Linked DNA regions of Homo sapiens. The protein of the gene in region 1 interacts with the protein of each later gene in a pairwise test. Each region holds a gene or a part of one and is shown on either strand. Other genes may lie near its edges. The genes, in order: HSH2D, CNMD and RBP7.

Region 1 (3,749 bases):
TAGCAGGGATGGGGTTTCACCATGTTGGCCAGGCTGGTCTCCAAATCCTGACCTCAAGTGATCCACCCACCTTGGCCTCCCAAAGTGCTGGGATTACAGGCGTGAGCCACTGCGCCCGGCCACTCACCATAAATTCTGTCCTTAAACTGGAGCTCACTCCCTCCACCCATTGGCCCCATCTAATGTTTCAATATCTCAAAAGATCTTTTTACTGGGCTGTCTCTATGAGGAGGCGGGGTCTGTTGACCAATGGCAGTCAATATTGACTTTCTCCAACCAGATGTCAAGCATACCCTCTGGGGTATGGCCTGAGGGAATTCTGGGGCAACCAAAATTAAATAACTGTATTAAGAAATGTTTAATAAAGCAGGGTGACAAAATGATTAAGAGCCTGGAATTGGAGGCTGGGTGCAGTAGCTCACACCTGTAATCCCAGCACTGTCAGAGCCTGAGGCAGGCGGATTGCCTGAGGCTGGGAGTTTGAGACCAGCCTGGCCAACATGGTGAAACCCCATCTCTAATAAAAAGACAATCATTATCTGGGCAAGGTGGCTCACCCCTGTAATCCCAGCTACTCAGGAGGCTGAGGCAGGAGAATTGCGTGAATCTGGGAGGCGGAGGTTGCAGTGAGCTGAGATCGAGCCACTGCACTCCAGCCTGGGCAACAGAGCAAGACTCCATCTCAAAATAAATAAATATGAAATAAAAATACAAAACTTACAGTGGCATGTGCCTGTAGTCTCAGCTACTCAGGAGGCTGAGGCAGGAGAATCATCTGAACTCGGGAGGCAGAGTTTGCAGTGAGCCAAGATCGCACCACTGCACTCCAGCCTGAGCAACAGAGCGAAACTCTGTCTCACAAAAAAAAAAAAAAAAACCCCAAAAAAAAAACCCATCACCACCAACAACAAAAAAAGAGCCTGGGACAGGTGCGGTGGCTCATGCCTGTAATCTCAGCACTTTGGGAGGCTGAGGCAGGCAGATCACGAGGTCAGGAGATTGAGACCATCCTGGCTAACATGGTGAAACCCCGTCTCTACTAAAAATACGAAAAATTAGCTGGGTGTGGTGGCGGGCGCCTGTAGTCTCAGCTACTTGGGAGGCTGAGGCAGGAGAATGGCGTGAACTCGGGAGGCAGAGCTTGCAGTGAGCTGAGATCGAGCCACTGCACTCCAGCCTGGGCGACAGAGCAAGACTCCGTCTCAAAAAAAAAAAAAAAAAAAAAAAAGAGCCTAGAATTCGACCCAGATGGCCTGGGTTCAAACCCTAGCTCGCCCACTTAGCCGCTGTGTGACCTCAGATAAGTCACTTAATGGCTCTCTGTCCCTGTATTTCTGTCTTTAATTTGGGAATAATGATATTTACCTAGGAAAGTTTAGCTAGCACTGTGTATATATAGAGATATATATACAATATTCATGAATCCAGTTGTGACCTATCATGGGGTAATGTTTACAGGCTTATTCTTTTTTTTTACTTGGAAGAGCTCCTATTTATCCTTCAAAACCCAGTAAAAATGTCCCCTCCTCCAGGCAGCTTTCCTGCATCTCCCCCCAGACAACACCCTGGCACCCCTCTCTGTCCCCAACGTTCCCCCCTGTTCCTCTCTCTGGTCCAGCCATGACTCCATGGAGCTAGAGTGTCTTTATCTTGCTCTGTCTCCACCAGCCTGAGGGCCTCCTAGGGATCAGGGCTTAGGGCTAGGTTCCTGTGTTGTTGTTTTTTTCTGTGTCCTGGTGCTGGCCTGGCACAGAGGAGGGTGCAAGGGTCTTTGCTGGTGAACAGCTATCTAGTGATGAAAGACCGCATGCTCAAATTCAAGCTCCTGACCCTGGCCTGGGAGCCTCCTCTACTTCCCCGCTACCCACATTCTAGACCTAAAGACATCCTTGCTCTCTCTCTCTTGCCTCTCCATACCTTTGCTCATGCTGTTGTCTTGCCAAGACCCCCTTTTCCCTAACTCCAGCTCCATTTTCCATTTGTGGTCACCACAAATACCCCCTCCTCCACGAAGCTCTCCCCCATGCCCCTAGAAAATCCCTCCTGCCACCCCAGGCCCCACTAGCCCTGTCCCTCCTTCTGGCCTAGCCCAGCCCCCACGTTCTGTCTCCTCGAGGGCTGAGGCTCTTGGGTCACATACCTGGGAGACCCTTGGATGGCCGAGGCCCTCGCTGTAGCTGTGCCAGTGCCTGCAGGAGCCTGGGTTTCGATTCAAGGTCTGCACGTCAATGGGGCGGGGCTGGCTGCCCCGAGGCAGTTCCTGTTTCCTCAAGCAGGTGAGCCCTGGGGGCGGAACAAGGACAGCTCAAGTCACCCTGTCTGCAGTCCAACAAAGCATCTGGTGCCACAGGTGCAGAGACAGCTTGCTCCTGTCTTGCCCCCAGCAAGTTGTTATTGAGCACCTACTGTGTGCCTGCTGTTTGGAGGACACAGGGGTGACACGGAGACAGGTGCAGGCCCCCTGACTCCTGGCATCTATAATCTATCAAGCAGTGAAGAGGAGTGAGACATCATTACAAAGGGAGAACGGGGAACGGGTGCGGTGGCTCACACCTGCAATCCCAGCACTTTGACAGGCTGAGGCAGGCGGATCACTTGAGGTCAGGAGTTTGAGACCAGCCTGGCAAACATGGCAAAACCCCGTCTCTATTAAAATACGAAAATCAGCCGGGTGTGGCGGCGCACGCCTGTAATCCCAGCTACTCAGGAGGCTGAGGCACAAGAATTGCTTGAACCCGGGAGGCGGAGGTTGCAGTGAGCAGAGATCGCACCATTGCACTCCAGCCTGGGCAACGGAGTGAGACTCCTTCTCAAAACAAAAACAAAAGCAACAAAGGGGGAACAGAAACTGGGCGCGGTGGCTCACGCCTGTAATCCCAGCACTTTGGGAGGCCGAGGCGGGTGGATCATTTGAGGCCAGGAGTTTGAGACCAGGCTGGCCAACATGGTAAAACCCTGTCTCTACTAAAAATACAAAAATTAGGCGTGGTGGCGGGTGCCTGTAATCCCAGCTACTCAGGAGGCTGATGCAAGAGAATCGCTTGGACCAGGGACGCAGAGGCTGCAGTGAGCCGAGATCACGCCACTGCACTTTAGCCTGGATGACAGAGGGAAATTCTGTCCCCCGCAAAACAAACAAACAAAAAAACACCAGCTGGGTGCGGTGGCTCATGCCTGTAATCCCAGCACTTTGGGAGGCCAAGGTGGGCAGATCATTTGAGGTCAGGAGTTCGCGACCAGCCTGACCAACATGGAGAAATCCCGTCTCTACTAAAACTGCAAAATTAGCCCGGCGTGGTGACACATGCCTGTAATCCCAGCTATTTGGGAGGCTGAGGCAGGAGAATCGCTTGAACCCGGGAGGTGGAGGTTGCGGTTTGCTGAGATCTCACCACTGCACTCCAGCCTGGGCAGCGAGAGTGTAACTCCGTCTCAAACAAAACAAAACCAACGAAAACCAAACAAAACAAAACAAAAAAACAAAAAACCCCAAACAAACAAAAAAATCCAAAGGGGAAACAGGAAGTGGGAACAGCAGTTGCACAAACCCACAGAGGTGACCTAACTGACGTGAAGGAAGGGGCATTTGAGGGTGAGAAGGAATCATCTTGATTTGGGGAGTGCGTAGTGCAGAAAGAGTATATTTTTTTGTAGAGATGGGGTCTTGCTATATTGCCCAGGCTGGGGGAGGGAAGAGCAGGCACAAAGGCCTTGAAACTGAATTGAGCCTGGACAGGCTGGGGTCTCAT
Region 2 (3,649 bases), on another chromosome or scaffold:
TTAAAAGTAAGGTATTACTGTTAAATGTGTCTTTAGAATTCTGTATGCAATTCCTAAAGTAAATTTTAAAAAAATCAAGCTCAAAGGCAAGTTATTAATAATAAATGAAAGAAACATGTTTTAAAAACTCACAGGTTTGACACATAGAAAAGGAATTAGATATATGTTGTGTAGCTTCAATGGGCTGAACCTGAACCAATGGGAAGAAGTTGTAGGAGGAGCTATCTCAGCTTAATGTAGGGCAAAACAATTAGAACCACCCTCAGTGATGCTGGCTGGTGTTGGGGTGGGGGATGAGTGCCCTGTGGCTGCTTTCCAGCAGAGGCTGTGTGATCCGCTATTGTGGGTCCCTTTAATGAAGACCCTGTCTTGTGGAGTCCTTTGTCTTTATTGTGGAGTCTCTTTCGGGTTTTTTTATTTTTTGAGATAGAGTCTCATTCTGTTGCCCAGCCTGGAGTGCACTGGTGCAATCTCAGCTCCCTGCAGCCTCAATCTCCTGGGCTCAAGTGATCCTCCCACCTCTGCCTCCTGAGTAGCTGGGACTATAGGTACGCACTACCATGGCCAGCTAATTTTTTGTATTTTTAGTAGAGACAGGGTTTTGCCGTGTTGTCCAGGCTTGTCTGGAATTCCTGGGCTTAAATGAACTGCCCACCTCGGCCTCCCAAAGTGCTGGGATTACCAGCATGAGCCACCATGCCTGCCTCTATTGTGGAGTCTTAACCACAGATCAGATAGTTCCCTAACCTCAGGCAAATAAGGCCATATGAGCACCCAGCCCCTTTATGCACTTTAAAATGTGGCTTCCCAAAACGTTTAAATATACTATATCATGTGAGAAGAATCCCTTGACCCCAGTAGGACAAAAACAGTTTGAATTCCTTTGGCAGAGAAGAAATCGAATTTACCATCTAGTCATGAACCTATCCAGGTACTAGAAACCAAAAGTGTTGTGCCTTTAGGCTGGGCGCGGTGGCTCACTCCTATAATCCTGGCACTTTAGGAGGCCGAGGCAGGCAGGTCACTTGAGGCCAGGAGTTCAAGAAGAGCCTGGCCAACATGGTGAAACCCTGTATCTATTAAAAATACAACAAGTTAGTTGGATGTGGTGGTGTCCCTGTAGTCCCAGCTGCTCAGGAAGCTGAGACAGGAGAATCGGATGCAGTGAGCCAAAAGCGCCACTGCACTCCAGAGTGAGACTCTGTCTCAATAAAAATAAAAATAAAAACAAAAAATAAAAACCAAAAGGGTTGTGCCTTCAAACAATGTTTGCCAAGCAGTCTCACTGTCTCAGGCATGTTGGTACCCACCAGTTTGGAGGAGATGCTCTGTTTGGTCACGGCGCCCACCTCAGGAATACGAGCCTTCACTTGCGCTTTAATGTAGCACTTCTCTCCTCCAGCAAAACGAATTCCTGTGATGCCCTATGAAACAAAAGTGTATCCATCTATCTATCCATTTGTTCATTTATTCGATTTATTGAGTGTCTACTGTGTTCCAGATGCTGTTCCGGGTGCTAGGGATAGGGATGAACAAAAGAGATGGAACTGCCCTCATGGAACTTACCTTTTAGCATTGTTTACCAATAATAAAAAACAGCCGGGCGGCCTGGCGCGGTGGCTCACGCCTGTAATCCCAGCACTTTGGGAGGCCAAGGCAGGCAGATCACGAGGTCAGGAGATCAAGACCATCCTGGCTAACACGGTGAAACCCGATCTCTACTAAAAATACAAAAAAAAAAAAAAAAAAAAAAAATTAGCCAGGCGTGGTGGCGGGCGCCTGTAGTCCCAGCTACTTGGGAGGCTGAGGCAGGAGAATAGGGTGAACCGGGGAGGCGGAGCTTGCAGTGAGCCAAGATTGCGCCACTGCACTCCACAGCCTGGGCAACAGAGCAAGACTCCGTCTCAAAACAAAAACAAAAAACAAACAAAAACAGCCGGACATGGTGGCTTATGCCACCAGAACTTTGGGAGGCCGACGCGGGCAGATCACCTGAGGTCGGGAGTTTGAGACCAGCCTGGCCACCATGGTGAAACCTTGTCTCTACTAAAAATACAAAAATTAGCCGGGTGTGGTAGCGGGCTCCTGTAATCCCAGCTACTTGGGAGGCTGAGGCCGGAGAATCGCTTGAACCCGGGAGGTGGAGGTTGCAGACAGCCAAGATCGCCACTGCACTCCAGCTTGGGTGACAGAACGAGGCTGTCTCAAAAAAATAAAAACAAACAAACAAACAAGAATAGAGATAAAGTCAGGTAATAACTGTTAAGAAGAAAAATAAGACAGGAATGATGAGGTGGTAATTTAGACAGACAGCATAGTCAGGGGAGGTGACTCAATGAGGGGATGATATTTGAGCTGGGACAGAATATGTTAGTTATTCCATCTATATTCACAAGCTCAGATGAAATGCCACCTTCTCCATGCAGCCTTCTCTGAACATCTCAGCCTAAGCAGCTGTCTTTCCTCTGCTTTCCCATAAGTCCTCCTGTCTTCATTCCTCAACTGGGATGCTTACTCAGCTATACACAGCCTACTTAGTTATAAGCTTCTTGAGATCAGTATTTGAATCTTTTCTGTTTTCTTTTTTGGTGACCCCACAAAGCTATTCAAAAGATGTTGGTCAAATTAATTAATTCTGTGAATTCAGAATTTTCCTAGGTTACTGAGCCCAGAGTAAACAGTAAAACTTTCTACAGCACCTGGTTCTGAACTTTCCTTCTATACCTTACCCAAGGACTTAGATGTTTTTTTTTTGTCTCCTGAGAGATATAAACAATATCTTCTCTTGGTCTGCCTAGGGACTGCCTCAAGGGAAACATCAGCCACAAAGCTCCAGTCTTGGCTGAAAGCACAGCCCCGATTCTACCCACAGAGGACATGAGGGGTAACAGGATGCTCTGTCCCAAGAATGTTTACTCTCCTCCTGCTGCTGTTAGTTTCAGGACTAGTGAATCTAAAATAAAGGCCTACAATTTTTATGGTATAATAATGGAGATACTAGCACAAATCTGAACCTTATCAGTCCTCTGTTGAGTTGAGGCAAGTGTTGGAATGATATAGAAATGGTACCAGGGCCAGTGATAAAGAATGGGGGTAGAAAACACTTAAAATCTAGGGATCCTGGCTCAAGATTCAGCCCTTTACAATGAAGAAGAAAATTAAATGTAAGTCATGCTGGAGGGGATTAATGGATAGCTCTACCTTATGTAGTCACAGAGCCAGGAGCCCTACAGAAGCTGGTGAGTAAAGGACTGCAAAACACAGAAGAAAAGGCTCATTCTTCCTCAAGCTCTTTATTATTTGTCTTGTGGCTTAATTAATCATGTATACATATGTAACTCATTTCACCTATTTCTCCCAGCACTACTGCTCACTCAGAGAGACAGGGGCATTATCCCCACTTTACAGAAGAGGAGCTCCGAGGCTCACTGCTGAGGCTTGGCTCTTAACTGCACCTGAATTCACTGTAGAGGGTTTAAGAACACAGACGCCTGGGTCCCTTCCCAGAGATTCCCATTTGATTGGTTTGCTTTGGGGCCCAGGTATTGGGAGCCTTAAAAGCTCCCCAGGTGTTTATAATTTAAAGGGTTGATGCCAGGGTTGAAGACTACCATATGAAAGAGAAAGGTGTTCAAGGTAACAAAGCTTT
Region 3 (3,649 bases), on another chromosome or scaffold:
CCTCAATGTATTCACCACACACATGAATGTTCACCGTTCAACATGGAAGCTCTCTAAACCCCGTGGTTTAGTTTTTAGTGGATGTTTCAGCACATAGGCATGACTGATTAAGTCAATGGCTATTTGTGATTAGTTCAATCTCCAGCCCCTCTTCCCTCAGGGATGAGGCTGAAAGTTCCAACCCTCTAATCATGCCTTCGATTTTCTGGTGACCATCCCCCATCCTGAAGCTATCTAAGGACCCTCAGTAGACAGTCATGTCGTTAACACACAAAAGATCTTTTTTTTTATTTGGAGACAAGGCCTTACTCCTTTTTTATTTGGAGACAGGGTCTTACTCCTTCGCCCAGGCTGGAATGCAGTGGTGCAGTCATGGCTCACCTTAGCCTCAACTTCCTGGGCCTAAGTAATCCTCCCACCTCAGCCACCCAAGTAGCTGGGACTACAGGCACCCATCACCATGCCCAGCTAATTTTTTTTAATTTTTTGCGACGGAGTCTTGCTCTTGTTGCCCGGGCTGGAGTGCAATGGCGCGATCTCGGCTCACTGCAACCTCCACCTCCTGGGTTCAAGTGATTATCCTGCCTCAGCCTCCTGAGTAGCTGGGACTACAGGTGCCCGCCACCACACCCGGCTAATTTTTGTATTTTTTAGTAGAGACAGCATTTCACCATGTTAGCCAGGCTAGTTTCCAACTCCTAACGTCAGATGATCCACCTGCCCCGACCTTCCAAAATTCTGGGATTACAGGTATGAGCCACTGCCCCCAGCCAATTTTTTGTAGAGACAGAGTCACACTATGCTGCCCAGGCTGGTATTAAACTCCTGGACTCCAGTGATCCTCTTGCCGTGTCCTCCCAAAGTGCTGGGATTACGGAAGTGAACCACCACACCCAGCAACCAAATATTTTTTAATATATCATGGTGGCTGGGCGCGGTGGCTCATGCCTGTAATCCCAGCACTTTGGGAGGCTGAGGGGGGTGGATCACCTGAGGTCAGGAATTTGAGACCAGCCTGACCAGCATGGTGAAACCCTGTCTGTACTAAAAATATAAAAATTAGCTGGGCATGGTAGCGGGCGCCTGTAATCCCAGCTACTTGGGAGGCTGAGGCAGGAGAATCACTTGAACCCAGGAGGAGGAGGTTACAGTGAGCTGAGATCAAGCTACTGCACTCCAGGATGGGCGACAGAGTGAGACTCTGTCTGAAAAAAAAAAAAAAAATCATGGTAAGTAAGAAGCATTCCATGAGTATCCTTAGAACAAAAGTACTTCTGTGCCCTGCATGGGCAGATTTCCAGGGTATGCTAGAGAAGGATGTACACATTTGGTATTTCTCTTTTTTTTTTTTTTTTTTTTGAGACAGTTTCACTCTTGTCATCCAGGCTGGAGTGCCGTGGCGCGATCTTGGCTCTTGGCTCACTGCAACCTCCTCCTCCCAGGTTCAAGTGATTCTCCTGCCTCAGCCTCCCGAGTAGCTGGGATTACAAGTGCCTGCCACCACACCAGGCTAATTTTTGTATTTTTAATAGAGACGGGGTTTCGCCATGCTGGCCAGGCTGGTCTCGAACTCCTGACCTCAGGTGATCCACCTGCCTCGGCCTCTCAAAAGTGCTGGGATTACAGGTGTGAGCCACCATGCCCAGCCTTCCTTTTCTTTTTTTTTTTTTTTAAAGACAGGCTAGTCCTACGTTCCCCAGGCTTGACTCAAACTCCTGGGCTCAAGCAATCTTCCCGCTTTGGCCTATCCAGTAACTGGAACTACAGGCAAGTACCACCACACCCAGCTGTTGTGCATAATTTGAACATTACCTCTTACAAACCAACTAATCTAAATCCTCAAACATATGTATATATTCTTTGAAATTCCATATTACGTATTTGCGAAGGCAAGTTTCTTACTTTGTTTTTTTTTTTGGAGACAGAGTCTTGCTGTATCCCCCAGGCTGGAGTGCAGTGGCATGATCTTGGCTCACTGCAACCTCTGCCTCCCGGGTTCAAGCGATTCTCATGCCTCAGCCTCCTGAGTAGCTGGGATTACAGGTGCCTGCCACAGCCCGGCTAATTTTTTTTTTTTTTTTTTTTTTGAGATGGAGTTTCACTCTTGTTGCCCAGGCTGGAGTGCAATGGTGCAATCTCGGCTCACCGTAACCTCCTCCTCCCAGGTTCAAGTGATTCTCCTGCCTCAGCCTCCTGAGTAGCTGGCATTAGAGGCATGCGCCACCACTCTCAGCTGATTTTTTTTTTAAATATTTTTTAGTAGAGACGGGAGTTTCTCCATGTTGGTCAGGCTGGTCTCAAACTCCCGACCTCAAGTGATCCACCCACCTTGGCCTCCCAAAGTGCTGGGATTACAGGCATGAGCCACTGCGCCCGGCTCCGCCCAGCTAATTTTTGTATTTATAGTAGAGATGGGGTTTCATCATGTTGGCCAGGCTGGTCTCGAACTCCTGACCTCAGGTGATCCGCCTGCCTCAGCTTCCCAAAGTGCTGGGATTACAGGCGTGAACCCGTAATCCCATGCCTGACCTCTTACTTTTTTATCGTCAGAAGAGTGTGAGATTTGTCCATCTAGAATCAAAATATCTTCAAGGCCTTGGTATTCAAAGACTACCCAGACCCAACTTTAAGGACAGTGCTCTAGTTTTGTTCTCATGGGTCTCACCTAGATTTCACACATACAGTGAGGCAAAAAAGCACAGAGCTGAGAGCACACATTCTTGTCAGACCTGTATTTGAATCTTCACCCTACAGTGTGAAAATACGTAATTCACAATCAAAGCTGATGAAACTTTAAATTATTTTGAGTCTTAAAGGAATGTGATTGTGGGACCTGAGTCATGTGAAAGGCCGCTGTAACCTAGACAGCTATAACCTTAATTTCTCTGGTTATAGATTAGCCTTTTTCTTTACCTACACTGTTTTGTAAAAAACTAAAGGGCACCAGAGAAGACTTCCCTCTACTGTTGATCTTAATTACAGACTCACTTCCCTGTTTCTTCTCTCTTTTTTTTTCCCAAAGCAGGTGAACCTCTTCCTTCTCTAATACAAAGACAGATGACTATCACGTTGTCTAAGATGGAATGTTAAATATACTCTTAAGATGACAGCAAGAATGAGGGGGAAGAAAAATAAAATAAAGAATGTTAAATATATTCTTTAAACTGGAAAGAAAAAGGAAAAAACTGAGTGGTAACTAATCAAATTCCTGTAACTCATAAAACAGCTTTGTATAGAAAATGTTGTAATCCTGCGAAATTTCTTTGTTTTCTGTCTGTCGGGTGGCTCACGCTTGTAATCCCAGCACTTTGGGAGGCCAAGGCGGGCAGATCACCTGAGGTCAGGAATTCGAGACCAGCCTGGCCAACATGGCAAAACCATGTCTCTACTAAAAATGCAAAAATTAGCTGGGCATGGCCGGGCATGCTGGCTTACACCTATAATCCCAGCACTTTGGGAGGCCGAGGTGGGCGGATCACCTGAGGTCGGGAGTTCAAGCCCAGCCTGACCAACATGGAGAAACCCCGTCTCTACTGAAAATACAAAATTAGCCAGGCGTGGTGGTGCATGCCTGTAATTCCAGCTACTTGGGAAGGCTGAGGCAGGAAAATCGTTGAACCCGGGAGGTGGAGGTTGTGGTGAGCCGAGA

What was found.
Region 2: the proteins of HSH2D (region 1) and CNMD interact in a two-hybrid assay, tested with the Homo sapiens proteins (one large-scale study listed by BioGRID and IntAct).
Region 3: the proteins of HSH2D (region 1) and RBP7 interact in a two-hybrid assay, tested with the Homo sapiens proteins (one large-scale study listed by BioGRID and IntAct).

Annotation. Positions count from the first base shown.
Region 1 is NC_000019.10:16,142,166-16,145,914, reverse strand, and holds the start of HSH2D (hematopoietic SH2 domain-containing protein), read right to left. Parts: upstream 2,231-3,749; 5' UTR 2,141-2,230; intron 1-2,140. UniProt on the Homo sapiens protein: May be a modulator of the apoptotic response through its ability to affect mitochondrial stability. Adapter protein involved in tyrosine kinase and CD28 signaling. Seems to affect CD28-mediated activation of the RE/AP element of the interleukin-2 promoter.
Region 2 is NC_000013.11:52,722,687-52,726,335, forward strand, and holds part of CNMD (leukocyte cell-derived chemotaxin 1 isoform 1 precursor), read right to left. Parts: intron 1,425-3,649; coding exon 1,311-1,424; intron 1-1,310. UniProt on the Homo sapiens protein: Bifunctional growth regulator that stimulates the growth of cultured chondrocytes in the presence of basic fibroblast growth factor (FGF) but inhibits the growth of cultured vascular endothelial cells.
Region 3 is NC_000001.11:10,010,650-10,014,298, reverse strand, and holds part of RBP7 (retinoid-binding protein 7), read right to left. Parts: intron 1-3,649. UniProt on the Homo sapiens protein: Intracellular transport of retinol.